Regions from separate parts of the Homo sapiens genome. Here all the other regions are linked to region 3. Evidence: fine-mapped expression QTL. A gene starts in region 3. Each other region holds a variant in brackets. All regions are shown on one strand. Distances are between the middles of the regions.

Region 1 (11,236 bases), 33 kb before region 3:
AATTATTGTCATATCAACATGTAATAAGTATAAAATGTTAGTAATGAGAATTTTTTTCCTAGTGTGTTTTTATACTTCAGGACATTTCAAACTGGACTAGTCTCATATCAATTGCTCAGTAGCCACATGAGGCTAGTGTCTACTCTGTTGAATAGTATACCTCTATACACATGTGTTTATATGTTTATCTTCCCCATTTTACTATCGTCTCCTCAAGGAGAGAAATAGTTCATTTGTGTTTTTATCCAAGTTTTATTCAAACTCTCAGTGTTCAGTATTGTGATATGTTTGGGAAAAGTTAAAAGCTAAAATGTCTTTGGGTGACATCAATGGAAGAATAATTTGCAGAAGAGGGAGATGATGATACTGTTCTGTTTACTAGACATACCGTCCCCTTATTATTATGCTTGGTCCTAGGATCCATGCTTTAGAAAGGCATTGTTATATTAGAAAAAACTCCGAAAAAAGTGATTAGTGGCCGGGCGCGGTGGCTCACGCCTGTAATCCCAGCACTTTGGGAGGCCGAGACGGGCAGATCACAAGGTCAGGAGATCGAGACTATCCTGGCTAACACAGTGAAACCCCGTCTCTACTAAAAATACAAAAAATTAGCCAGGTGTGGTGGCGGGCACCTGTAGTCCCAGTTATTCGGGAGGCTGAGGCAGGAGAATGGTATTAACCTGGGAGGCAGAGCTTGCAGTGACCCGAGATCGTGCCACTGCACTCCAGCCTGGGTGACAGAGCAAGACTCCATCTCAAAAAAAAAAAAATAAAAACCAAAGTGATTAGTTTGATAAGGTGTCATTCAGTCATGCCATATGAGGAATGACTATAGCCTTGATGGTGCTTGGCTTGGGACTGGGAAAGTACGGATGGGCATGTGTGAGAGAGCATAATCTTCAAAGGCTTGAAGGGCTGTTAAAAGCAGGAATGAGTCTTTGTAACTCTAGGAGTAGAACTAAGGTCAATAAGTAGAAATAACAATGACCAGATCTTGGGTGAACGTTAGGAAGGAATTCCCAACTATATGATGCCTGAAAATGAATTGGTCTATCTCACCACCAAGGAATTGGCCTACGTTGGCGGTGTTCTAGCAGATTGCCTTTTCATGATAGATGGCAAAAGACCTCTAGCCTCATATGGATTAGGGGGTTAGATAGAATGACTTCCAAAGATCCTTCTGACCTTGAGGTACTGTGATTCCATGAGATCATACCTGGGAATATATTTGAGTTCTTTAGAAAAATGTGCCACCAAATTGCAGAAAATTTATGTGAAGATATTTGGGTCTGGACACTTGGATTTACTTTTATCTCTCTTTATGAGGTTCCAAAACAATCACATTAGATTTACACGTTTTCTGTAAGCTTTGTCACTGAAAAAACTTGATATTATAAAAATATTTCAATGACTGAGTTTATTCAACATTGTTGACTACCTTTAGTTACTTTCTAATGTCTTCTGGCTGATTCAGAGATTCTGGGCTTCTCAGACCTTACTTGGAAAGGTCTGATAAGACCAAATTTAAAATGCTATGTATGTGATGATTCAGTTCTTTAGAAGGGTTGCCAGTTTGTGGTGTACAGTAAACACTTGGATTACTAAATATTCTAGTGAAGATTAGCACTTTTCATTTGCATCTTTTTTTTTTCTTCTGAGATTCTCAAATACCTTAAAGATAAGCAGAAATTCATAATCTACATTCATTCTGAAAACTTTTATATTACTATTCAGCAAGTGATCTTTAAGATTGAGCTAGGAACTTGTGGCCCTGGTGTGTTATTTTCAAATAACTAGAAACTTACATTTTCAAATGATGATTTTTATCTTTGAAGCAAGGATTTTGATTTTGTTTTGGTTTTATAGCTTATTTTCAAAGTTAAGAAACGCAAGAAAGGGTGTTAATATATTTCATTCAGGAAAGGTCCTGGTTGGTAAAATATGTAAAAGTACAAACTTCTGAATTCACCATCATTTCCTGATGGATTTGTAAAAATTTTTCTCCCCAGTCTAATGTATTTGTTTGTATACTAACTTCCACACAGGGCTATGGAACACACCTGATGAATCATTTGAAAGAATATCACATAAAGCATGACATCCTGAACTTCCTCACATATGCAGATGAATATGCAATTGGATACTTTAAGAAACAGGTTGGTTTCTCACCACGCAACACTGTTTTGTCACTCCTTTTCTTAATATGTTCTCAGGTAGCGTTCTTCCAAATAAGTTTCTCCCCCAGTGTTTTCTACTTATAAGAACAGGCATTTGTTTTACAAGCCTTATGTCAAAAATAAGCTTCAGCCTGGATTAGAGAGTGTCACTAGCACATAGTAAGTATTGAATAACTATTTGTTGAGAGAATGAATGAATGTCACCTGTCAGTGAGGTATAATATTGCATCCTAACATTCTAAAATATGGTTTCTAATAAGAAATTCCCAGTCCTGGAATTTGGTGGGTAGCATTCTCTGTGAATGAGAAAAACAGATTCAGTTTCTGGAAGGCCTCCATTTATGACAGCAGAAAGGAAATCCTGGAGTTTATAAAAACCTGCAAACAGTCCTGATTCTACAGCACATAGTGGGCTAGGAGCTTGGCTGTCATCTTTGCAGTTCCTTCCTTTCTCCGTTCCTCCCTTCCTTTTTTTTTTTTGAGACAGGGTCTCACTTTGGTGCCTAGGCTGAGACTGCAGTGGTGCAATCTCAGTTCACTGCAGCCTTGACCTCCTGGGCTCAGGTGATTCTCCCACCTCAGCCTCCCAAGTAGCTGTGACTACACCCAGCTAATTTTTTGTATTTTTAGTAGAGACAGGGTTTTGTCGTGTTACCCAGGCTGGTCTCGAGCTCCTGGACTCAAGCAATCCACCCACCTCGGCCTCCCTAAGTGCTGGGATTATAGGCGTGAGCCACCTCACCAGGCCTCTGTCCTAGCAGTTTCTTATCAGAAGTTTTCAGCTCAGGCCAGGTGCAGTGGCTTATGCCTGTAATCCTAGTACTTTGGGAGGCCAGGGCAGGAGGATTGCTGTGCTCAGGAGTTTGAAACAGCCTGGGCAACATAGTGAGAACTTGTCTCTCTTTAAATAAGTCTTAAAATAAGTTTTCAGCTCAGCTTTTTGAGGACTATTCTTTGACTGCATATTATTTTTAATAGTGATTTATAATTCCTAAACATTTTCATTTACTTTTCTGACTATAAAAGTAATGTGTAATCATTGTAGAAAATGTAATAAAGCAAAAGAAGGAAAGAAAAATGGCTTGTAATTCTGTCACCCCAAGAAATTTACTGTTAATGCTTTGATTTTTTTATTTTAAAATTTTTTCTGTTATTTTTCCTCTCAGCTCATACCTATGCTGTTAATGCTTTGACATAAATCTTTTTAGTATTTTTTCTGTGTGTATATAAACATAAAAGTTGGTTCATACTGTGTATATAATAATTTTGGTGGTTTCCTAGGATTTTGTTGTAGAAATAGAAAATATTTAACCAATACATTTTTGACTAGGTGTTTCTTGTAGGTAATGTGCATGTGTATGGGTGTGTGTTTGTGTACATGTTTTGCCCTCATTGATGGTAATTTGCTTAGAATAAATCAAGGTTTTTGTAATGTGTTGCTAAATATTTTAAAAATTTCCATTTTTGTCAGCAGTGTATAAGGGGGTCAGGAAAGGAGTTGGTAACTGAAAAAAAATTTACCACTTTTCCAGATAATAAATTGTGTATGTTTGAATTTATTTATGTGAAGTTTGATTTATTTTTCCATGTTTATCAATTCTTTGTATTTGTTCCTTTTTTGGATTGCTAATTCATTTTCTTTTGTCCCTTTTTCTATAAAAATGTTTAGTTGTACATTGATTTGTGAGAACTATTAGTATATAACTATATTAACCTTGGATAATATTTGTTTCAACATTGCTTATGGCTTTTTCTTTAAATCTTCAGAATGTTAAAGATGTTATTACATAAAATCTATTGACTTGTTTTGGTTTGGATTTTGTTTGTTTGTTTGTTTTGAGACAGGGTCTTACACTGTCACCAAGGCTGGAGTGCTGTGGCATGATCATAGCTCACTGCAGCCTCAACCTCCTGGGCTCAGGCGATCCTCCTGCCTCAGCTACCTGTGTAATTGTGACCTCAGGTGCATGCCACCATGCCCAGCAATTTTTTTTTTTTAATCATTTGTAGAGATGGTGAGGGGTTGGGAGAGAATCTTGCTATGTTGCCTGGGCTGGTCTTGAACTCTTGGACTCAAGTGATCCTCCTGCCTCAGTCTCCCAAAGTGCTGAGATTATAGGCATGAGCCACTGCACCCAGCCAGACTTCTTTTTTTTTAAAAATGTGTTCTTATGTAATTAGAAAGCTTTTTGTGCTCTGAAGACAGATAAATAATCTCCTATTTATTATCTTCTCATTGTTTGAGATGCATTTTAACTTTTATGGTAAAACTCACTGAGAACTTAATTGGATTGTTTCACTGAGGTCTTGAGCATCAGCTTTCCTCAGCTGTAACTGTAGTGCAAAGCATAAGATCTCAGCTATGGTTCTTAAATGACTTGTCTGTAGTCCTCTTTGAGGATGATGGCAATAATTACTTGGAAAATAAGTTTTTGTTGAAAGATGAGGCAGTGAACTGCTGGCGATGGTGCTGAAGTTCAAGAAATTTTCTGCAAATAACTGAAATAGATACTTAAGGCAAATTATGTTTATATTATAAATATATTATTTATAATTTTGAATATATACTCTGAAGCAGTCTGTTATTATGGCTTAAAGTGTGTAAATGAGTATATTCCAAAGCATTAATGTCATTGAAACAACCACACATTGTGACTGTCTGGAATTTTTTTGCCTGCAAAGAAAGGATTTCATTTCCTCAGAAACATTAAGTTTCTAATCACTTTATTTTTTTGACCATCTTTTCTTTGATAATTTAGATCAATGTTAGTTATTGATTTGCTGAGAATCCTGGGGACCCCCTCACCACTTTTGGAGAAATTTGCAACGGTCATATTTAATTATGTAATTCAGTACAAAATTAAACCTAATTTTTACTTAACACCTGTTTCTGTTTTAAACTTTTTAATATTTCTTGCATTTTATTAGGGCCATTTAAAAAATGTTGTCTTGCTTCCTATTTACACAGTTAGATTTCTGGTGTTTTTGAACTTCATGGGTGGTTTTAAGCTAATCCTCTTCAGAATAGTACAATGAGAACTTCAAAGAAGCTTGTCTTGATTCCTCACACAGTGCCTGGAACATAGTTAGCACTCAGTAGATATTTGGTGTATGGTGTTCATATGAATGAATTTACTTGCTTTTCAGGGTTTCTCCAAAGAAATTAAAATACCTAAAACCAAATATGTTGGCTATATCAAGGATTATGAAGGAGCCACTTTAATGGGATGTGAGCTAAATCCACGGATCCCGTACACAGAATTTTCTGTCATCATTAAAAAGCAGAAGGAGGTAAGCAGGTGGTTGACTCCCTTACCTTCTGTACAGGCCAGTCTTAGCTGGGGTGGGTTGCATTTCCTTGGGTGCTGCGTGTATGTGTTTACTGGATAGCAAACTCTCGGTTTGCTGTGGGTTATCTAGATTTCTTCTCTCTCTCTTTTTTGACACAGAGTCTCTCTGTCACCTAGACTGGAGTGCAGTGGCACTATCTCACTGTAACCTCTGCCTCCTGGGCCCAAGCAATCCTCGTACCTCAGCCTCCCGAGTAGCTAAGATTACAGGTGTGTGCTACCATGCCCAGCCAATTTTTCTTATTTTTAGTGGAGACAGCGTTTCACCATGTTGGCCAGGCTGGTCTCGAACTCCTGACCTCAAGTGATCCACCTGCCTCGGCCTCCCAAATTGTTGGGATTACAGGTGTGAGCCATCGCTCCTGGCCATAGATTTCTTTAAAGGTATCCTTGATCTGTTTCCTTTCTCGGTTACCATTTCTACAAGAGTCATTACTTTTTAAATTTGTGTAAAATACAAAATATGTAAAATACAAAATATGTAAAATATGGTGACATATTTTAACTTCACCTTCAAGCCATTTTGCATTCTGGCCTCAATTATTGTTCCCACTCTTATCTCTTTACTTTCATCTCCAAATACTCCAAGTGCATCTATTTACTATTCTCCAAAGTGTCTTTGTCCATTAGCCACCCC[G/A]TTCACTCAGCACACACATAAATCAAACCGTTTCAGGGTGTGTTCCAGTTCCTCTTCTGAACTTCTCTAGCACCAGTTTGATCCACCTATTTGAATTTCAGTTATTCATCTTACATAGACATTTACCTTACTGTATATTAATCTCTGCTTTTACTTGGCAAGTTCTGAAGGCTTATCCTTCTAGGTATTAAGTGATTTGTTATCTGGTATTGAGGTGACTTTTTTTATGCATATGAATGAAAAGAGAAGCAGTAAAAGGGAAAGGTTGACAGAGTTGAATACATAATAATTTCAAATTTTCTAAGGCAGAAAAAAAAAACACTCATGATGAAAAGAACAGAACTGGGGAGTACACAAAGGCCATTTATTGAAAGAAAGAACTTTGTGTGTTAAGTCCAGGATCACCTCCTGGCTGCTCCCAGTTGGGTGGAGTTTGCAGCTGTGTCATCCCACGTCAATTCCACTTGATACTTCTGTTATTCGTTTAGTGCACTTTTCTCTAACAAATAGCTTAGGAGGACATCTGTCTTATACCCATCTTTGTTTTCTGGTTTCTACTAACCTCCTTAATCCCAGTTCTTAGTTTTTTGTTAGGCATTATCTACCTAACAGCCCTAAAGCTTTTTACACAGTGTCTGGTGCATAGTAGTTACTCATTAAGTATTTTTCTTTTACTTAAAGTGGCTCAGTCTTGTTCTTGTGTTTCCTGGGGAAGTGAGCAAAGGCTTTTTTTTTTTTTTGGAAAATACAAACAACTTTTGTTGCTTTTTGTTCAAAGATGTCAGCCTAAGAGAGAATTCCAAGTAGGCACTTGGAAGAGTTAATAAAGCACAGCGGGCTCCTCTCTCTCCCTGTCTCTCTGAAGAGCTGGCTTTCCTCATTGTTCTCTCTGGAGCTTAATGAGCAGGTCTGGATTCAGCAGCACATCGTTCCGCATTAGAGGCTGCTGGCCAACTAAAGCCATCACCCCGCTGTCAGCTGCTCTTTCCTCATTCCTCCTCCCAGCAGCACTAATTCATCCCCACGGTGTTAGCTGAGAGCAGGATTCCCTTGGCAGAGTCTGCAAATTCACATTGTACATGATCTGTTGGCCCTTCAAACCTACAGGGGAACGCCAGAAGCGCAGAGCTATTTTAGATGGCTAACAAAGCAGTCAACTTTTTAGAAGCCAAGGCTCCCTCCCCATTCTTTTTTCTCCTCTCCTCCCCCTCTGCCTCCAGCCTTCCCTCACACATTCCGTTGAATGGGTGATGGAGGTTTGGAGATCTTAACCTAGTTTTTAAAAAAGCTATCTGAAGTCACTTCAATAAAAATATATTTGGATTCATGTAGTATTTTTTTCCACAGAATTCAGTTGATTTTTTATAAGTATTATTTGTTCCAACTGTGAAAAACCCCTCAAGGAAGGTAGGGATTCATGGTGGCAGCAAAGAAACAGTGAATATTCTGAGGCATTTCCTAGCCCCTAAAAGTATACAGGAGCAGAATAAGTTGTAGTTGTCATTAGTAGAGAGAGAGAGAGAAAACTAGTATAGTTGGACAGGTGGACCAAGAGTGGAGAGTTAAGTGCTACTTTGTGAGTGTTGACTCCAAGGGAAAGGTAGGATCTGTAGGGGCCTCATGTCACCTGACAGGGCTTTGTGGGACATTTGTTTTGAACTGGGCAGCCTGGTGATGAAATCTGCATTAGCAGAGGCTCAGAGTCCAATGGAAACAGATTTGTGGGCACATGAACAGGTAGGACCATTGTTATGTCGGTGATGAAGGCACTATTTGAGAAAGCGCGAATAGGCTATGAGCAAGCATAATTGGGTATCTATGTGCCTGTGTGTGTGTGTGTGTGTACGTACATATACCTATGTACATGTATGTGTGGATAGGCTGGGTGGTGGGTGGGGGGATAAGTTCTTAAATCTTAATCTACATGTGACAATACAAGGAATTGGGGTTGGAGAAGCCAAAGTAAGGATGGGGAGACTCAATGCAATTTTTTTATAAGGAGACATGCAAAGACTGGGTGATGTATTGGAGATGGGGAACTACTCCACTGAAATTTTCTGCTTTGGGAGACCCTAAAACTGACAGCAGTAGATCATAGGACTGAGCTGTGGACTTCAGGAGAAGAAGATGAGGACATACTTTCATTTGGAAGGCATTGATTTTATCGTCATGGTAGGGAGTTGAAGATATTTTCTAGGGAGGTGAAGTTAATACACTAGAACACAATGAAAATATCTCCTTTCTGAGATGCAAGTCAAAACCACAATGTGATACTATCTCACACCAGTCAGAATGGCTATTATTAAGAAGTTAAAAAAATAACAGATGTTGGCAAAGCTGTGGAGAAAAGGGAATGCTTATACACTCTTGGTGGGAATGCAAATTAGTTCAGCCCCTGTGGAAAGCCGTTTGGAGATTTCTCAAAGAATTAAAAATAGAATTACCATTCCACACAGAAATCCTATTACTGAGCATATACCCGAAGGAAAATAAATTGTTCTTACAAAAAGATACATGTGCTTTTATGTTCATTGCAGCGCTATTCACAATAACAAAGACATGAAATCAATTCAGGTGCCCATCAAAGGTAGATTGGATAAAGAAAATGTAGTACATATACACCATGGAATATTATGCAGCCATAAAAAAGAACAAAATCATGTCCTTTGCAACAGTGTGGGTTTAGCTGGGGCCATTATCCTAAGCAGATTAACACAGGAACAGAAAACAAAATACTGCATGTTTTCTGTTATAAGTGGGAGCTGAACATTGGGGATATATGCTCACAAAGATGGGAACAGTAGACACTGGAGTTTCCAAAAGAGGCAAGAGAGGGAGAGGAGTAAGGGTTGAAAAACTACCTGTCAGGTACTGTGCTCACTACTTGGGCAGTGAGATCATTAGAAGCCCAAACCTCAGCATCACACAGTATACCCATAATACCCCCTGTATCTAAAATGAAAACAATAAATTAAAAAAGATCTCTTCTCCATACTGATTACTAGAGGTACAGAGAGCTTAGGACGCCTCCCATTCCCATTAACAGTCACTTCTCAGGAGCCCACAATCTTTAAGGTGCTACATGAGGTGAGTGGAAGCCATCTGTAGGTCATTGCATTTGAGAGTCCCTTGGTGAAGAGAAGGAAACTTTCAAATTGAAACAGTCTTCAGCATATTCTCTGAAGGTGTCGATTTAAGAGATTGCCCTTGGGATTCTTTTTTTTTTTTTTTTTTTTTTTTTTTTTTGAGACAGCGTCTCACTCTGTCACCCAGGCTGGAGTGCAGTGGCATGATCTTGGCTCACTGCAAGCTCTGCCTCCTGGGTTCGCACCATTCTCCTTCCTCAGCCTCCCGAGTAGCTGGGACTACAGGCACCCGCCACCATGCCCAGCTAATTTTTTGTAATTTTTAGTAGAGAAGGGGTTTCACTGTGTTAGCCAGGATGGTCTCGATCTCCTGACCTCGTGATCTGCCCACCTCGGCCTCCCAAAGTGCTGGGATTACAGGCGTGAGCCACCAAGCCCAGCCAGGTTTCTTTTTTCTTTTTTTTTTTTAAGATTTGGACTTATAATAAATAAATGGACTTAAAATAAATAAATGGAAAGCACCCATCTAGATCAGCCTTGTCAAAAGTAGCAGTCACTAGCCACATGTGGCTACTGAGGACTTGATATGTGGTTAGTCAAAATTAAGGCATGCTGTAAGTATAAAATCCTCTGATTTTCATTTCTTTCTTTTTCTTTTTTTTTTTTTAAGAGGAAGTCTCGCTCTGTCACCCAGACTGGAGTGCAATGGCACAACCTTGGTTCACTGCAACCTCCACCTCCCAGGTTCAAGCAATTCTCCTGTCCCAGCCTCCTGTGTAACTGGGATTACAGGCGTGCACTACCATGCCCAGCCCATTTTTTGTATTTTTAGTAGAAATGGGGTTTCACCGTGTTGGCCAGGCTGGTCTCGAGCTCCTCACCTCAAGTGATCCACCCACCTCGGCCTCCCAAAGTGCTGGGATTACAGGTGTGAGCCACTGCACCTGGCCAATCCTCTGATTTTCAAGAGTTCATATGAATAAAGCAATGTAAAATATCTTACACTTTTTTCCAATTGTATGTTACAATGACATTTTAGATATAATGGGTTAAATGAAATACATTATTAAAATCAATTTCACCTGTTTCTTTTTGCCTTTTAAAAATGCGGCTAGTAGAAAAATTTAAATTACATGCGTGGCTTGTATTATGTCTCTATTGGACAGCACTGATCTAGATTTACTAGGAATATACTTTTACTAGTCCCATTCATTTTATGAAGTTATTTGTTTAACTGTTAGGATTACATATTCATGCTGCAGTATTTACCAGCTATATGTTTGAAATCAATCAGGAAGTAGATTTTTTTGTTTTCCTTTGTGAATGCAATTAGTGATTTCTATTGTTTTGTTTCGTTTTTCCAAAATTTCGTTATGATATGTTTAATTTCCGGATGGGATTTTTTTAGTTTTTTTTTTTTTTTTTTTTTTTTTATTAAAGGGATAACCTCACTGTCTTGGAAGTAGTTACCTCAGCATATTAATAATTATTTTACAAAACAAACAAAACATCTCTCAAAATTTCTCAGTCAGTGTGATGGCTTATGTCATGGTTGTGTTGCTTTAATAGATGATACTTTAAATTGCATTATTCTTTTCTTTCTTCTCATGACAGCCTACTATTATAGAGCTGCTTTTTTGATGCAGCCAGAATAGGTTGGAGGTCCAGCCTTGAAAAATTTAAATAGTAAAGCTTTAACAACTGTAGGCTTTTGGGACTTTCTGGGGCCCGTTTACCTGCTTCTCTAGTCCGAAGGGAACAGTTCCTAGTTATGGGAAGTGAAGAGGTTCTGTCACTTGACTGAGTAGTGAATGCTCAGGGCTGCTTTCCTGTAATTCTGGCAGAGCCTCCTCAGAGAAGCAGGGCAAAATAATTGGCTCTTATGCTACAGATGACAAGTGGGCCCTAGGGGCTGTGTGTTTTCTCAATATTGGCTTTTCTGGATGTCAGGGACAAGTAACTCAAAGATGTTTTTGTGAATGTCAC
Region 2 (11,236 bases), 110 kb before region 3:
TGACAGATCTTTCCACTGTGTCGAAGTCTGAGCTGACTGCTCTGGCATTTTGACAGATAATTTCTGATAAATTCTGTGTGTGTGTATTAAATGGAAAGAAATTGTCTTGGATTTAGCATTCCAGGGTACTAGTTTCTAGGCCCCAGTGTCACCCAGGACCTCCTGAGGCCTTTTCAGGGGTAATGCATGCTTAGGTTTGCTCCTGGAGAGGTCACTCGGATGTAATGAAGGGTCTGGCCAACCCCTAGGCTATTTGGTAACAACTGGAGCCATTCCAGCATCTTCAGAGAGCCTGCCAAGGGGGTTCCAGACCTTTCAGTCAGCGGGACCTAATTATAATATTTAGCAAAGGGAGGGCAGTTTCTTATTCAACTCCAGCATAAACACAAGGATTTCTTCCAGACAGGGATGTCATGAAGATTTTCTGTTGATTTGATTTTGGAGTAACCATGGAGAGCATAGATGAGAAGAATTTGAATGAGGTGTTTATTTATACCTGGGTTGTTTTGTCTTGGGTCATTTCCTCATGATATGCTTTCCACTCTCTTTCTGTAGCCTTGACCACTCTTTAATATTTGTTTTTTTGATTCCTTGTGGCTTCACAGACCAAAATGGCACTCATAAATTAAGGTATTCAGCCAGGTGCGGTGGCTCACGCCTGTAATCTCAGCACTTTGGGAGGCCACGGCAGGCAGATCACCTGAGGTCAGGAGTTCAAGACCAGCCTGGCCAACATGGTGAAACCCCGTCTCTATTAAAAATACAAAAATTAGCTGGGTGTGTTGGTGGGCAATAATCTCAGCTACTCGGGAGGCTGAGGCAGGAGAATTGCTTGAACCTGGGAGGCGGACATTGCAGTGAGCCGAGATTGCGCCACTGCACCGTAGCCTGGGCAACGAGCGAGACTCTGTCTCAAAAAAAAAAAAAAAAAAAAAAGGTTTTCAGAGATGCTTCTGATAGTGAATTACCTCACTAGTTATCTTTTCTCTCTTACAATTCTATTTCTATCTCAATCCCAGGCAGTTTTGTTCTCCTGAGGGAACCCTGATCCCCACCCTGTATACTTTCCTCTTTTCACTTGTGTCAGATTTTTAAAGTTCCCATAGTTTAAAAATCCCAGCTTGAAGTCATAGCATTATGGTATCTTCTGCTGGCCTTCCATGTACAACTGTGTGAACTGGAAGGATTGTCACACAGTGGAGGAAGAAAAAGGGCTTGTGTCCCAGGGAAGGATTACTGAACCATTTAATCTGTATATGAAAAGCTAAAGTTAATTCAGGGAGAAGAGAAAGGTGTTGCTGAAGTCAAACCATCTTTATCTCTTCAAATCTTGGCTACTCAAAGAGTGGTCTTCACCCAGGAACTTTTAGAAATGTAGAATCTCAGGTTCCACCCGACACCCACTGAATCTTAATCTTCATTTTGATGAGATCTCCAGGTGATTCCTGAGTAGATTGGAGTTTGAGAAGCACTACTCCTAATTACATCAGCATAATTCAAACTGCTCATTTCCAAAGAGAAAACTTCTGGCAATCCCAGCTGCTTACAGTGGACTCCAGGTGTTGTTTTTTAAAAATATTATTAAAATATCTTGCTGGGCATGTGGCTCACACCTGTAATCCCAGCACTTTGGGAGGCTGAGGTGGGCAGATCACTTGAGGTCGGGAGTTCGAGACCAGCCTGGCCAACATGGTGAAACCCCGTCTCTACTAAAAATACAAAAATTAGCCAGGCGTGGTGGCATGCGTCTAGTAGTCCCAGCTACTCGGGAGGCTGAGGCAGGAGAATCGCTTGAACCTGGGAGGCGGAGGTTGCAGTGAGCTGAGATCATCATGCCACTGTACTCCAGCCTGGGCGACAGAGACTCTGTCTCAAAAAAAAAAAAAAAAAAAAAAAGGCCAGGCGTGGTGCCTCACGCTTGTAATCCCAGCACTTTGGGAGGCCGAGGCAGGTGGATCACGAGGTCAGGAGATCGAGACCACGGTGAAACCCCACCTCTACTACAAATACAAAAAATTAGCCAGGTGTGGTGGCGGGCGCCTGTAGTCCCAGCTACTTGGGAGGCTGAGGCAGGAGAATGGCGTGAACCTGGGAGGTGGAGCTTGCGGTGAGCCGAGATCGTACCACTGCATTCCAGCCTGGGCGACTGAGCGAGACTCCATCTCAAAACAAAAACAAAAACAAAAAAAACTTTACTGAGTTATGATTTAGGTACCATAATATTCTCTAGTTTTAAGTGTACAATTCAATGATTTTTAAGAAATTGACAAGTTGTACAATCATCACCACAATCTACCTTTTAGAAGATTTCCATCACCTCCAAAGGATCCTTGGGTCCATTTACAGTTAACCCTGTTCCTACCCCCCACCCCAGATGACCACTAATCTTTCTGTCTCTATAAATTTGCCTTTTCTGGATGGTCATGTAAATGGAAGTATACAGTATGTGGCCTTTTATGATGGGCTTCTTATGCCGAGTGTAATGTGTTTGAGATACATCCATGTTGTAGCATATGTCAGCACTTCTTTATCTTTCATTGCAAGTAATAATCCGTTATATGACTAGAACACATTTTGCTTATGCGTTAACTAGTTGATGGGCATTTAGATTATTTCTGCCTTTTGGCTATCATGAATAATGTTGCTGAGGCATCTGCATGCAAGTCTTAGTATGGATATATTTCTGTTTCTCTTGGGTAGATACTTAGTGGATTTGCTGGGTCATGTGGTAAATTTATGTTTAACTTTTTGAAAAAATTGTTGTTTCTTAAAAAACTGTGGGCTGGGCATGGTGGCTCACGCCTGTAGTCCCAGTACTTTGGGAGGCCAAGGCGGGCGGATCACCTGAGGTCGGGAGTCTGAGACCAACCTGACCAACAGGGAGAAACCCTGTCTCTACTAAAAATACAAAATTAGCTGGGCATGGTGGTGCATGCCTGTAATCCCAGCTACTGGGGAGGCTGAGGCAGGAGAATCTCTTAAACCCAGGAGGCGGAGGTTGCAGTGAGCTGAGATCACGCCATTGCACTCCAGCCTGGGCAACAAGAGAGAAACTCTGTCTAAAAACAAACAAACAAACACACAAACAACAAACTGTGGTAATGCTGGGCATGGTAGCTCATGGCCTGTAATCTTAGTACTTTGGGAGGCTGAGGTGGGAAGATCCCTTGAGTCCAGGAGTTTGAGACCAGCGTGAGTAACATAGTAAGACCCTGTCTCTACCAAAAAATAAAAATAAAAAATAAAATAAAATAAATTATCCAGGTGTAGAGGTACATGCCTGTGGTCCTGTCTACTCAGGAGGCTGAAGTTGGAGGATTGCTTGAACCCAGGAGGTTGAGGTTGTAATAAACCATGATCATGCCACTGCACTCCTGGGCAACAGAGTGAGACCCTGTCTCAAAACAACAACAACAACAACAACAACAAAACTGTGGTAAAATATAGATGATCTAAAGTTTACCATCTGAACTATTTTTAAGTGTCTAGTTCATTGGTATTAAGAAATTCACATTATTGTGCAATCATCACCACCATTCATCCACAGAACACTTTTCAGCTTGCAAAACTGAAACTCTGTGTTCATTAAACAGTAACTCCCTCTTCCTTCCTCCAACCCCTCGGCAACCACCATTCCTATCTCTATGAATTTGGCTACCATAGACACCTTATCTAAGTGGAATCATACAGTATTTGTCATTTTGTGACTATTTTACTTAGCATAACATTCTCAAGTTTCATTCAGGTTGTGGCATGTGTCAGAGTTGCCTTTCTTTTTAAGGTTATATAATAGCCCTTTGAATGTATATACTACGTTTTACTTATTTATTCATCTCTTAAGGGATGCTGGGGTTGCTTGGACCTTCTTGCTGTTGTGCTTAATAATGATACTAGGACATGGGTGTCCAAATATTTCTTTGACTTCCTACTTTCAATTCTTTTGGGTATATACCCAGAAGTGGAATTGCTGCGTCATATAGTAATTCCATTTCTAATATTTTGAGGAACTGTCATACTGTTTTCCATAGCAGCCATACCATTTTACGTCTTCAGCAGGAATATTCAAGGTTTCCAGTTTCTCTACATCCTCTCCAACACTGTTTTCTGTTTCTTTTGTAGTAGCCATGCTAATGGGAGTGAGGTGGTATTTCATTGTAGTTTTAATTTGTATTTTCATACGTATATATGAAAAAATAATATATATGAAAAAATATATTATACATAAAAATATATAATTTATAATACATAAAATATATTATATATTATATATTATACATAAAGTATATAATATATAATATACATAAAATATATATAATATACATAAAATATATAATATATTTGTATAAAATATGTATTATATATTATATATAAAATATGTATTATATATCATATATAAAACATAATATATATTATATATAAAACATAATATATATTATATATAAAACATATAATATATAAAACATATAATATATATTATATATAAAACATAATATATATTATATATAAAACATATAATATATATTATATATAAAACATATAATATATATTATATATAAAACATATAATATATATTATATAAAACATATATATATAAAATATATAATATATAAAAATATATAATATATAATATATATAATATATAATATATAAAATATATATATTTTATATAAAATATATTATATATAAAAATATATATAAAATATATAATATATAAAATATGATATATAATATATAATATATAAAATATAATATATAATATATAAAATATAATATATATAAAATATTTATTATGTATAAAATATAATATATAATATATTTTATATATAATTTATAATATATTATATATAACATAATAAATTATATATTATATATTATATATTATTATATATAATATATAATATATAGAAATTATATATATTTTATTTTATATATATATATATTAGAGGTAGTTTTGCTCTGTCACCCAGGCTGGAGTGCAGTGGCATGATCTCGGCTCATTGTAACGTCTGCCTCCTGGGTTCAAGCGATTCTCTTGCCTCAGCTTCCCGAGTAGCTGGGATTACAGGCATGCGCCGCCACGCCCAGCCAATTTTTGTGTTTTTAGTAGAGACGGGGTTTCGCCTTGTTTGCCAGACTGGTCTTGCATTCCTGAGCTCAGGTGATCCACCTGCCTCAGCCTCTCAAAGTATTGGGATTACAGGCGTGAGTCACCGTGCCTGGCCCATTTTCATAATTATTAATGATGTTGAGCATCTTTTCATGTGTTTATTGACCATTTGTATATTTTCTTTGGAGAAGTGTCTGCTCAAGTCCTTTGCCCATTGTAAAATTTCGTTGTTGTTGTTGTTGTTGAGTTGTAGGCATTCTTTATATATTTTGGATATTAACCTGTTATCAAATATATGGTTTGCAAATATTTTCTCCCATTCTCTGGGTTGCCTTTTCACTCTGTTGTGTATGTCTTTTGGTGCACAGAAATTTAAAGTTTTTCCTAATTCCAGTTTATCTGTTTTTCTTTTGTTGCCTGTGTTTTTGTTATTTATTTTTAGACAGTATCTTGCTCTGTTTCCCAGGCTGGAGTACAGTGGCACAGTCATGGCCCATTGCTGCCTCGAATTCCTAGGCTCAAGGGATCTGCCTGCCTCAGCCTTCTGAGTGGCTGTGACTGCAGGCGTGCACCACTATGTCCAGCTAATTTTTAAAATTTTTGTAGAGATGGAGTCTTGTTTGTTGCTCAGGCTGGTCTTGAACTCCTGACCTTCCCAGCGTGCTGGGATTATACACCTGAGCCACCACACCTGGCCGCCTGTGCTTTTGGTATTATATCCAAGACACCATTGCCTGATCTAGTATCATGAAGATTTTTTCTGTATTTTCTTTTAAGAGATTCTTTCTTTCTTTCTTTTTTTTTCTTTTGAGATGGGGTCTCGCCCTGTTGCTCAGGCTGGAGTGCAGTGGTGCGATCTCACCTCACAGCAACTTCTGAGTAGGCCTCTTTTTTTTTTTTTTTTTTTTTTTTTTTTTTGAGATGGTTGCTCTGTTGCCCAGGCTGGAATGTAGTGGCACAATCTCAGCTCACTGCAACCTCTGCCTCCCAGGTTCAAGCAATTCTCCTGCCTCAGCCTCCCAAGTAGCTGGGATTACAGACGTGAGCCACCATGCCCGGTTAATTTTTGTATTTTTAGTAGTGACAGGGTTTCACCATGTTGGCCAGGCTGGTCTTGAACTCCTGACCTCGTGATCCAACTGCTTCGGCCTCCCCAAGTGCTGGGATTACAGACGTGAGCCACCACGCCCGGCCGAGATTCACAATTTTATGTTGAAGTCTTTCATCTATTTTGAGTTCATTTGTGTGTGTGTTATTAGCTAAGGGTCCAGCTTCATTCTTGTGCAC[A/G]CAGATACCTAGTTTTTCCAGCACCATTTATTGAAAAGACTGTCCTTTCTCTATTGAATGGTCTTGGCACACTTGTCAAAATCATTTGACCATTATCTGTGAGGGTTTATTTCTGGGCTATCTATTCTGTTCCATTAGTATATAAGAAGCTAGCAAACTGTTTTCCAAGGTGGTTGTACCTTGTTACATCCCACAAACACTGTATGAGGATTCCAATTTTTCACATGCCTGATAATTTGTTATTGTCAGCTCCTTTTGAAAAAAGAACTTATTTTGTGTTTAATTGACACCTAATAATTATACATATTGATGGGGGCATAGTGTGGTGTTTTGAAACATGTATACATTGTGTAATGGCCAAATCAGTGTAATTAGCATGTTCATCACCTCAATCACTTGTCATTTCTTTGTGATGAGAACATTCAAAATCCTCTCTTGTAGCTATTTTGTAATATGCAATATATTATTGTTAACTATAGTCACTCTGCTGTGCGATAGAACACCAGAATTTACTCCTCCTATCTATATTTGGTTAGAGAGATCTTATTGGGTGAGAAGTTACGGTTTTGATCCTTGACATTTAAACATTATGACTTTGTCCAGCATGGAGCAGAGAGGTAGTGAATAAGAGTGAGTCCTTCCTCTCTCACAACCACAGTGCCAGTTACCTGCCTGGACACATTTTGTGCATCTGCAGGGTAGAATGAGTAACCCCAGGCAAGTCTCTTATCACCTAGAGCCTCAGCTTTCTCTTTTAATAATGGCAATAATTCATACTTTACTTACATCGAGTGAGATAAGAGTACATGTACATTTTTAATTTTGGGTGCTAAATAAATGTTGGATCAGTTATACTGAATAAATTTTCCATCAACGTGTTCTTGCTGTGGGACATCCTTGACACTAATTTAAGTTTTCCAACAAATGCGACTTTCCAATATTTTAAGCATGACAGAATTTTGCTAGACAGCTGGCTGTCTTTCTCCTGTTCCTCTGGATGCCACTCAAATATCTTCACACCCATCTCACTCATTAACACTGCGTGAACTGTGAGCTCTCCACCCCTTGTCTGTCTGTAATCTGGGTTGTGACTACTTGTTTATCCAGTTTATCTTCTTTCTCATCATCCATCCTGGTTTCTGCATACTATAACAACATCGGTTGCATACTATTGACCTCTAACCCTGGATCCTGTTGGGATGAAAACATTATCCCAGTCCTGTTGAAAGTAGTGCAGTGGCCTTTTCTTCTTTCTTGGTTCTGCAATGTCTGCAGAGATGTGCTCTTGGGGGGATGAAGTCATCTGGGTAGCTTTCCCCTCCCTGTGCCCAGGTTGCTAGCTGCTACAGTAATTGGCTTGGCAGTGCACTCCCTAAAAGGTTGTCCTTCAGCTGGTACTTCATTAAAGCTGCAAGGCCAACTCCCTTGGGAGTTCCCTTAGACAGCAGCTGTCATGCCTAATTAAGGAGAGACATGGGAAAGGTGTTTTGAAAGGAGACCTCTTATCTCGAAGAACAGTGGCCAGGCCTGAACATTGGAATGGGGAGATGAAGGCCAAAGTGGAGGGCATGGTAGCAGCAGCTCAGAAAACTTGGCAGAAAATGCTTTGCTGGCAGTCAAGGATAAGAGCATTGACTGTTTTTTAAAGGACACAGTATGTCCTTTTTAGCAAATCAAGTAACGAGTCCCATATATATTAAAAATTTTGTACACTTAGGTTGTTAGGTGTCCCATGGAGCATGCACACATGCAAGAACCAATTTTCATATCCTGCAAAAAATACTGAAACAAGTAAGGAAAACTCAAGGGATTCTCATATATATCAATAGGGTATAACTTTAAAGAGTTAGGACCACTTAGGGATGCTGAGACTATTCTATGCTTAAACTGTTAGGGTCCATAGTGAAGACCTGGGGCTTGGGGGTGGAGTCCCTTTATAGTCTAGTGCACCAATATCCAATAGTAATATGGAGGCCGCATGTATTATTTAACATTTTCTAGTAGTCCTGTGTATTAGTTTCTTAGGCCTGTCATAACAAATAACCACAAAATATGTGGCTTAAAACAACAAATACAGTTTTTTTTTTATTCACAGTTTTGGAGGCTAGAAGTCTGAGATCAAGATGTCATCTGGGCCACACTCCTTTTGAAGGCTGTAGGGAAGAATCTTTCCTTGCCTCTTCCTAGCATCTGGTGGTGCTTGGCAATCCTTGGCATTCTTTGGCTTATAGTGAGACCCTGGTCTGTCTCATAGTGAGATCCAGCCTCTGCTTCTATCTTCACTTGGCCTTCTTTACTGTTTGTCTGTGTCTGTCTCCAAATCTCCTTCTTCTTTCTCTTAGGAAAACGCCAGTCATTGGTTTTAGGGCTTAGGATAATTTCATCTGCATGTCCTTAACTGATCACATCTGCAATGAACCTATTTCCAAATATGGCCCCATTTTGAGGTTCCAGGGGAACATGAACTTTATTTATTATTATTATTTGAGACAGTCTCACTCTGTCACCTAGCTGGAGTGCAGTGGTGCCATCTCAGCTTACTGCAACTTTGGCCTCCTGGGTTCAAGCAATTCTCCTGCCTCAGCTTCCCGAGTAGCTGGGATTACAGGCATGTGTCACTATGCCTGGCTAATTTTTGTGTTTTTATTAGAGACAGGGTTTCACCATGTTGGCCAGGCTGGTCTCGAACTCCTGACCTCATGTGTGATCCTCCCACCTCGGCATCCCAAAGTGCTGGGATTACAGGCATGAGCCACCGCACCTGGCTGGGACATGAACTTTAGGGCACACACTATTTAACCCACTGCACCGCATTAAAAAAAAAAAATCAGAAAAGCCAAAAATTTAATTTTATTAATTCTAATTTTTACTTTAACTGAATATTTCAAAATATTATTATAATATGTAATCAATATAAAATAATTCTTAATGTGATATTTTAACATTTTTTAATACGAAGTCTTTGAAATTCAGGGTGTATTTTCAAACACTCATAACACATCTCAATTTTTATTGCCAATTTTTAAAGACTCCGTATTCGCTTGTGGCTGGCTGCCACATCTTGGACAGCACAGTTGGAGTGCTGCGGGGCTGACAAAACTTTTATGCTTCTCAGTGTTTCACCCCATGTTGTCTCCCTCTCTTCATTCCTCTTAGTTTTCAGGGAATTTTAATTTGTTTGGGAAGTCTCAGTCATTATGAACAAAAGAAATAAAAATATACTTTGTACTGGGATCCCAAGACTCAGTGGAGGAAGTAAAATCAGCCAGTTTTGAAAGAAAAGATCTTTATTCAGTTACATTTTTAAGCATCAGTGTTTATTGTATGGTAGAATTCATTAAGCACTCTATCACAAGTGGTTTCAACACGTGCGGTTAATATTCAAGATGTAACTTTTTTTTTTTATTGAGTAGGGGAAATATAAGACCTTATTATTACAGATCTCCCTGCCATGAGATTTGTGACTCACCCATTTATGAGCCCCCAGTGAACACAGCCATTATTCTCTGTCATGTTAAGACAAGAAGGGGCATAAATAAACTTTTTTTCTGGGCTGACTGAACTTAGTCTGTTGCAACAATGAAGTTAAGATCTATATCTCTAAAACTCTGTGTTGTCTTCTCCAAGAATTTAAAGCTTGTTACTTGTTAGCATGCATCTCAGGGCAAGGCAGAGTTTTATAAGCAAGCCCATAGGAAGAAAAGTTTTAGATCCTTGAATTCTTTCTTTATTTATTTTTTTATATTTTTTTAAACTTCTGAGACAGGGTCTCACTCTGTCACCCAGGCTGGAGTGCAGTGGTGCGATCTTGGCTCACTGCAACCTCTGCCTCCCAGGTTCAAGCGATTCTCCTGCCTCAGCCTCCCAAGTAGCTGGGATTACAGGTGCCCACCACCACACCTGGCTAATTTTTGTATTTTTAATAGAGATGGGGTCTTGCCATGTTGGCCAGGCTGGTCTCGAACTCCTGACCTCAGGTGATCTGCCTGCCTTAACCTCCCAAAGTTCTAGGATTACCTGTGCCTGTCCCGTCTGGCTTAATTTCATTTCTTTTTTCTTTCTTTCTTTTTTTTTTGTTTTTGAGGCAAGGTCTTACTCTGTCACCCAGGCTGGACTGCAGTGGCGCAATCTTGGCTCACTGCAACCTCTGCCTCCCGGGTTCAAGCGATTCTGCTGCCTCAGCCATCTGAGTAGCTGGGATTACAGGTGTGCACCACCATGCCGACTAATTTTTGTATTTTTAGTAGAGATGGGATTTCACCATGTTGGCCAGGTTGGTCTCGAACTCCTGACCTCAGGTGATCCGCCTGCCTCGGCCTCCCAAAGTGCTGCAATTATAGGTGTGAGCCACTGTGCTTGACCCTGTCTGGTTTAATTTCAACACGTCTTTACCCACTGCGCTGTAGCCACATTGGCCTTTACTTTCTGTTGAGCAAGCCAGGCACTCTCTTGCCTTTGCGCTAGCTGTGTTTCCCTTATACTAGATACCTAATGACCAACTCCCACCTTTCTTCAAGTCTTTGCTCTAAGGTCATCTCAAAAAGTCCTAGTTAAAATTATACCTTTTATCCCACCCTCTGCTAAGTTCCCTGTACTCATCCTTTTTTCTTTCTTTCCATAGCACCATCACATTCTCCAGTATATTCTATAATTTACTCATTTGTGTTAATCTTGTTTTCCCCATCCCCGGCTACCCCTAATGTAATCTCCAGGAGAGCAGAATCTTTGTTTCATAGTCAATAGTACCTGGCATGTAGTAGGCCTCAATAAATATTGTTGAAAGAATGAGTCAGTGTGCATAACTGCTTGGCTTGAAATGCTGTTCTCCAAACTCAAGGTGTT
Region 3 (8,000 bases):
AAAAAGAGAATACCAAGGGGAGGGGAGAGGAAATGTCCAAGGATGAGAATAGTGAAGACAGAGAGATACTCTATTTTTGATATTTAAAGAATAGAAGGAAAGCAATCACTATCTTATACAAACTTTATTGCTCTTTAAAAATGAATAACCTACAAAGTTCTAAAATTTAAAGAGGTATATACAAGTATAGACATCAAACTTTCTAAACTGAACTAATTCGCTTTCATTGGTTGGTCAAAAATATGCAAAAACCCTAAATATTCACACATTTAATCTCTGAGATTTCTGACTAAATAAGGAGCTACCCTGAAAGTACATGACATTTGTAATTTTATGGAGACATCACTCTGAACATACAATTAGAGCTTGGGGTTCACAATTAGTCACTTATCTTGTCCCTGAGCCTAAAAAAGAATCAATTTCTCTAGTCATTTTCCCATACATATTTTATCTGAAAAATTAAATATAACAGTGGTATAAGGAATTCATAAACAACTTAGGGTGTACCCTACTGTAAATGTCAAATATTTATTTTACTCGAATACTACACAGAGTTTCAAAAGATCCACAATAATTTATTTTACTCAAATATTGTACTAAAGAGTTTCAAAAGATCCTCTTAGAAAATCATTCACTTTAGTATCCCCTACTTAAGGGAAAAATAGAGATGCCAGAAGCTTATAATTAAAAGATCTTATTTGAGTAATCATTATTCATTTCTACAATGTTTGTATAAGATACATTTTGGGCTGGGCACAGTGGCTCAGTAATCCCAGCACTTTGGGAGGCCGAGGTGGGCAGATCACCTGAGGTTGGGAGTTTGAGAGCAACCTGACCAACATGGAGAAACCCTGTCTCTACTAAAAATACAAAATTAGCCGGGCGTAGTGGCACATGCCTGTAGTCCCAGCTACTCGGGAGTCTGAGGCAGGAGAATCGCTTGAACCTGGGAGGCGGAGGTTGCGGTAAGCTGAGATCGTGCCATTGCACTCCAGCCTGGGCAACAAGAATGAAATTCCGCCTCCAAAAAAAAAAAAAGATATATTTCGACTAAAATTAAGAGGTTTAGGCAGCATAAGAAATCGATATGATGATAATGCTTAAGCTCAGTTATTTATATTCAAAAGAAAAAATAAATTAAATTTATTAAAGTTTTAATACAAAGCATCCCATTTGAAGTATAGTTCTGAAGAAATGTTTATGAGCTAGGGTCCTGTCAAGAGAATATTCTATGGCAATGGCTCACTCTGTTTGTGTACTCTTACAGATCCTCTCCTGAAGCAACAGAAAGAGGTGTAGATTGAATTTAAACAATATCCAACAAAACCTTCATTGTATTTGTTTCATACTTTTTTTAGAACGTCTCAAATCCTTTTTCTGCTTGAAAATAGGAGAATTCAAAAAACACAAATCTGTAAAAGGGTCCCCTCTTCTCAGTTTCCTGTAAGAGTAAAAAGAGATCTCAGGCATAATGTAAGCATCCCAATATTAACTTACTCTTCCCTACCAAGTTATGGTAAAACACACCAATTTTAAATGTTCTCACTTCAGTTTTTTTAAATCAAATGTTTATATTTCAGAAAAAACTCATTCTTGAACAAAGCTCCATAACCTTATTCCCCCCGACATGTATCATTAAAAATAAGTTCCCACAAACCAAATACTTACGAAGCGAGGGTGGGCTCCTTATAGTTCACGCTGGCTGTGCACCTACGTTTAGGCAGAGCCACTGCTGGGCTTGCTTTATTCTTTTTTGGAGAAAGAGAAAGTCTTCTGATTTTCACAACAGGATACAAGGAGACATTGGTGATATCCTTCAGGCTAAGATGAGGTGACTGCTGAGTTTCAGGTGGTGTAGCTACAAAACAATTTTTACTGAATATGATTTAAAAAAAAAAACCCACACAAAAACTTAAATTGTACTCAATTGTATATATCTTAACTGTACACAAAATCCAGCATTTAATAATAGAATTTTTTTTTAGATGGGCTCTCACTGTGTTGCCCAGGCTGAAGTGCAGTGGTGTGATCTCAGCTCACTGCAACCTCTGCCTCCTGGTCTCAAGCAATCCTCCCACTTCAGTCTTCCAAGTAGCTGGGACTACAGGTATGCACCACCATGCCCAGCCAATAATAAATTCTTTTTTTAGCTTTTTCATCATTTTTTCCTCTTCCTTTCAAACCAGACAGTGTTGAAATATTAATTATAACAGAACACTTTACTAAAACTTAAAATTCTTCTAGGATAGCTTGGGCATAATAACTTTGTTTAACCATGGAATTTCATTTTAGTCATACCTTGCTATTTGGAATCAAGTCCTCTCTCTTTCAATACCAAGGTTTATTATCAAGTCTCTTCCTATAGTCTTATAAAGCCGCTAAAACTCCTTCTATTAAATAAATGAGAATTCTAAATAACAGCCTCTGTGTACACCAGGAGAAAAGCTAGCATGTAAAAAAGTTACTCAGTGTTTTTCCCATCATAAACATCCAAGTTATTATACTTTGAAGTTACACCTATATTGGGAGGCAAATGTCCAACACATAGTAAAGACACTGCAAAACAATCTCCTCAAATAGCTTTAAAAAGCAAACTGTATCCCCAAAAAAGTAAAAACTATAACTGTGAAATGATTGTATACTAAGAGCCATATGCTCCAGTGTTATCTGGGTTTTATAGTCTGTCCTTTTTGTTCCCACATAAATATACTGTACTGTATTAATTATTCCAACTTTCAGTTTGAGAAATATGTTGTTTGGAACAATATCAGATCAGTTGCTATATTCTGGAAAAATGCTTCTCAAACTTTAATGTGTATATGAATCCACAGGAGGACTTCTTAATGGCCAGGCACGGTGGCTCACGCCAGTAATCCCAGCACTTAGGGAGGCCGAGGTGGGCGGATCACCTGAGGTTGGCAGTTTGAGGCCAGCCTAACTAACATGGAGAAAGCCTGTCTCTACTAAAAATACAAAATTAGCTGGGCGTGGTGGCACATGCCTGTAATCCCAGCTACTCGGGAGTCTGAGGCAGGAGAATCGCTTGAACCCAGGAGGCGGAGGTTGGGATGAGCTGAGATCGTGCCACTGCACTGTAGCCTGGGCAACAAGAGTGAAACTCTGTTTCAAAAAAAAAAAAAAAAAAAAGATGCAGATTCTGACTCCACGGTATGGGGTATGGCCTGAGATTCTGCATTTCTTAAAAGACGTCTAGGGATTAAACTCTGAGTAATACCATTTTAGAGTATATTTTTTTCGTTTAAAAACGTATTTTTTATGTATTTTATGTATTTTTATGGATACAGGCTCACACATCTGTAATCCCAGCACTTTGTAAGGCCAAGGCAGGAGGACTGCTTTAGCCCAGGAATTTGAGACCACCCTGGCAACACAGTGAGACCTCATCTTCACAAAAAGTAAAAAAAAAAAAAAAAAAAAAAAATTAGCCAGGTGTGATGGCGCATGCCTGTAGTCCCAAGTACTGGGGAGGCTGAGGTGGAAGAATCACTTGAGCCTGGGAGGTTGAGACTGCAGTGAGCCATGACAGTGCCACTGCCCTCCAGCCGAGGTGATAGAGCAAGACCCTGTCTCAATTAAAAAGTGAACAACAACAAAAAAATCCCAACTTTTTCTGGACATTTTTAAATGTACACAAAGATGGCAATAACAGTATAATAAACTCTGAGTTACCCAGGTCCAATAATTATCAACACTTTGACAATCATGTTTGATTTATTCTAACATCATTATAGCATTTTTGCTTTTTTTTTTTTTGAGACTGAGTTTCGCTCTTGTTGCCTAGGCTGGAGCGCAATGGCATGGTCTCGGCTCACTGCAACCTCTGTTTCCTGGGTACAAGCAATTCTTTTTCTCCTGCCTCAGCCTCCCGAGTAGCTGGGATTACCGGCACATACCACCAGGCCTGGCTCATTTTTTTGTATTTTTAGTAGAGATGGGGTTTCACCATGTTGGCCAGGCTGGTCTTGGACTCCTGACCTCAGGTGATCCGCCCACCTCAGCCTCCCAAAGTGCTGGGATTACAGGCGTGAGCCAACCCGCCCGGCTTACAGCATATTTTTAAAAAAGATACTTGCCTGCTACCACTGACTAACTGGCCGATTTAGAAAGTTGGTTTGGTTTTTAAGGTTTTAATCTCCTTACAAACAAAATAAGCATCATAACACCTATACTTCACAGAATTGTTCTGAGGATCAAATAAAATGATGTGACAATATTTTGAAAATGATACAACTTGACTATAAATGTTAGTTTTACTTGTATTAACTAAAATTGCCAAATGAGAATCTTTGTGGACAGGTGTAGGTTGTATTACGAACATTTGAACTATGCCTACTTTTGATCTAATAAAATATTTTCTGAGCCAGTTTTTAGAGATGTCGTACAAAAGAATACTAAGCCTATCAATTGAGGAAATCTTCACTAACTAGAAGATTATTTTAAATCACGGTTCCTGTCAAATTTAATATAAAACAAGGCCATTAAAATAACAAGTCACTGGATTCAAATTTGATTTCACTTTCAAGGGGATACTTCAGTTAAGTGTATAAAAGCTACTTCAATTCAACCTAAGTCTACAAAAAAGTCCCTCTGTCCCCTTGGGAGTCCTAATTTACTGAAAATAAAAATTCTGTCTCCATAACAAGCAATCTCTGAATTAGGTCAGAGCAATACAACTGTGATTTCCACACCCAGCCCCCCACTGTTTAATCAGACCATAACTTCCACCAAAGAGAGACAGATGGTAAGTCTCCAACCTCCACCAGAGAAACAGATGGTAAGTATAGTATATAAGCATCAGGAGTGATCATTTATCACGAACATTAAAAATACAGGTAAACAAGTAGATCACTTACTGGTAGGAGTTTTTGTTGGCTTAGAACCCTCCGTCTCTTTTTCATCTGTGTATTTCAGTGCTCTTTTAGCTAGAGGCCTGGTGACTGGTCTATCTGAATTGCTCGTGGGATTCTGAATGTACTTGCAAGTGGGCAAATAGAGGTCATCGGAATCATCTCCTGAACCACTTGATTCACAGAGGCTCACTTCAGACTCGTTGTTTTCTTCTCTATTAGAGTCATTGCTCACTTTTTGTCGGAAAGGAGTAAGATGAACACCCTCTTCCAAATTAAAATTGTAAGCATCATTGGAACTGACAGATTTGTGCATTTTTTTTTGGGGAACAGTTTTTTTATTTTCGCTTTTATTCTCTTTATATTTTGACATACGTTTTGATTTTCTCCTGTTAGCTTTTCTTTTCTCTTCTCTTTTTCTTTCTTGTGTATCTCTTTGCTTACTTTTAGTTTGTTCAGATTTAGATTCTAAAATGTCTTCTTTTGTTTTAGTAAACGTTCCTGGCTGAATCAGCTTTGGTGATAAGTTAACTTGGTCCTTGCTCCATTGACAAGCATTGTGTTGTACATTTTCAGGTATGTGCATGTTTACTAGTGGGTCTAAAAATCCAACTCTTTCGAATTCAAAAGACTTCCCTGCCAAATGACTGGTTTCAAAATCATCCAAGCTATCAAACTGACATATACTGTTACAATGTTTCTTTAAACTGCTACGAACAGATACAGTTCTAGGTAAGACATTATCAGTAGACTTAGCTTCACCTGAATCAAAATCAACTCCCAGTGTGTCTTGAGGAATAGTAGGTATCTGATCTGAGAATTTAAAAAATAAATGAGAAAAGTAGTTTTACTTTGTGGAAATTTGAATTTCAAGAACTTTAGAATTCAAACTAAAAAAGTGAATGACCAAAAGGTCATTCTGTAGTTTTCCTACATTATAAAATCTGTAAATAAAAACCTGGGAACTTAAATATTACCATCTATTTACTTGTCAGTGATCAACTGATGGCTTATATCTGACATGTGAAAGAATCTTGTACAGGTTCAGTATCCCTAATCTGAAAATCTGAAATCCAAAACTTTTTTAGTGCAGTCATGATGCTCCAAGGAAATGCTAACTGGAGGGTTTTGGATTTCAGATTTTCAAATTAGGGATGATGAACTGATATAATGTAAATACTCCAAAATTTAAAAAATAAATCCAAAACACTTCTGGTCCCAAGCATTTTGGATAAGGGACATTCAATCTTTATAATCTTTAAAAACATTATAGGCCAGGCACGGTGGCTTACGCTTGTAATCCCAGCACTTTGGGAGGCCGAGGCGGGCAGATCACGAGGTCAGGAGATCGAGACCATCCTGGCTAACACAGTGAAACCCCGTCTCTACTAAAAAAAATACAAAAAATTAGCCAGGCGTGGTGGTGGGTGCCTGTAGTCCCAACTACTCGGGAGACTGAGGCAGGAGAATGGCGTGAACCCAGGAGGCAGAGCTTGTAGTGAGCTGAGATCGCACCACTGCTCTCCAAGCCTGGGCGACAGAGCAAGACTGTCAAAAAAAAAAAAAATTATAACAGGCTTTTATGTGCTCTTGGTTTAAAGAAAATGAATAGTCTATATGTATCATTGAGTACAGATTCAGAGAAGTAGAACCGCATATTCCAAAGTGGGACAAATGAGAAAGTGGGAGCTAAGTTGTTCTTTGAAAAATAAATAAGATTTGAATAACTAGAAAGCTTCTCAGGTAAGAAATATAATTTGTATTTTAAGGAAAAGTGGGGCTATGTCTGGTTTTGCTTATTCAAATACTATCCTTCCTTCGACGTCTGGTTTTGCTTATTCAAATACTATCCTTTCTTCAATGCTTGGTTCAAGTGGAGGAGATTGACACTTGAGAACATGGACATATCAATTTAAAAGTAGTAAGAAAGGGATGGCTTTGGAGTTCAACTTTGATTTTAAATGCTAGCTGTTAACATCTAGACTTCTTCATGTGAGATATTTTACCTTCTTGAGTTCCTATAAAACAGGACTAACTGTACTTATAGTCCTAGGTTGTTGTGAGGGTTAGGTGAGATTATGCACATAAAATGCCTAACATAGAGCTTGACACGTAGTAGCAATCAGTAAATTGCTGCCATAGTTATAGCCAAAGATTCAGATTACAGATTTGACACAATAAATATATTTTAACACTCTATTACTCTGTGTAAAATAAACAGATTTGCTTTGAGCAGAATACCAGATGAACAAATTTAAAAAGTTAAAAAAAAAGAATTAGATAAATTTAATTGTATTATTTGTTCTCAAAGACCTTATTTTGCCCTTAATAATATTTTTAGATTTTCACTTGAATTACCTTCTATTTGAAATGATTCTCCTTGTCCTGGAAGTTCAGTTTCTTCAAGAGGAATTTGCCTTAGAAAATACCAATGAAAAACAGAAATTTAACAATTATGTAATAAAAACAAATTCAGTATTTTCCTAAATTATAATTTTTCTTTCCTTTAGTATCATTTCATAATTCGATTTCAAATCAATACATCTATTCTGTATCAAAGGAAACCAAAGGACACTTATGCTGATTACAGGGAGACTGATTTGTTATGACTGACATTCAATTCCCACTTGAAGAACCAACCTATCAAGTTGGAGAGTTCCACCTGAAAACACATTATATAACTCAATTTAACTACGGAAACAGCCCATGAGAATTAATTTGTTAAATGTTTTTTAAAAAATGTAGTTTGATCACTCAACTCTTTAGGAGCCTGCTTTATCATTAGCAGAGCTGTGATTTGTTGGTAATATATGCTTTTATGGTGCTTAACTATTGAACTCTTCTGAAGTTAACATTGTTCATTTTCTTTACAAATGTTGTTCTTTGGTTCATGAAACATGAAGTGTTCTTTATACTCTAACACTATTACTGGCAGTTTCATTCTAATTGTAATTTTATTCTTTATTCTCTGTAGAGAATTTTCTACTCTAGACATTAAACAGATTTAGGTAAGTAATGGCTGTGGTAAATAATAACTACTTTAGAAATCTTCTACAAATTCAATTACCTTATCTTACCTTTTGCCCACAACAGATCTTAAAGTACAACAGTTTAAAAACTACTAATGATTAA

The links. PIP is the estimated chance that this variant, and not a neighbour inherited with it, causes the effect.
Region 1: its variant is fine-mapped to the expression of SGO1-AS1 in whole blood (TOPMed, PIP above 0.99).
Region 2: its variant is fine-mapped to the expression of SGO1-AS1 in whole blood (INTERVAL, PIP 0.98).

The regions. Positions count from the first base shown.
Region 1 is chr3:20,134,897-20,146,132 of GRCh38, forward strand. It overlaps KAT2B (lysine acetyltransferase 2B), which reads left to right. Exons shown (of 18, transcript NM_003884.5): 12 at 2,046-2,156; 13 at 5,325-5,468. It overlaps MIR3135A (microRNA 3135a), which reads left to right and starts at 2,669; the gene lies at 2,669-2,745. RefSeq lists a silencer at 6,247-6,447. The variant G/A (reference allele first, on the strand shown) is at 6,165.
Region 2 is chr3:20,057,540-20,068,775 of GRCh38, forward strand. The region is part of intron 1 of KAT2B (lysine acetyltransferase 2B); the gene reads left to right. Among named protein-coding and RNA genes, the nearest start is that of KAT2B, 23 kb to the left of the region's middle. RefSeq lists an enhancer at 1,374-1,543. The variant A/G (reference allele first, on the strand shown) is at 6,395.
Region 3 is chr3:20,169,375-20,177,374 of GRCh38, forward strand. It overlaps SGO1-AS1 (SGO1 antisense RNA 1), which reads left to right and starts at 4,912. Exons shown (of 4, transcript NR_132785.1): 1 at 4,912-5,151; 2 at 5,361-5,444; 3 at 7,843-7,876. SGO1 (shugoshin 1) reads right to left here. Exons shown (of 8, transcript NM_001199251.3): 5 at 7,227-7,285; 6 at 4,875-5,681; 7 at 1,669-1,858; 8 at 110-1,441. The coding sequence ends at 1,330.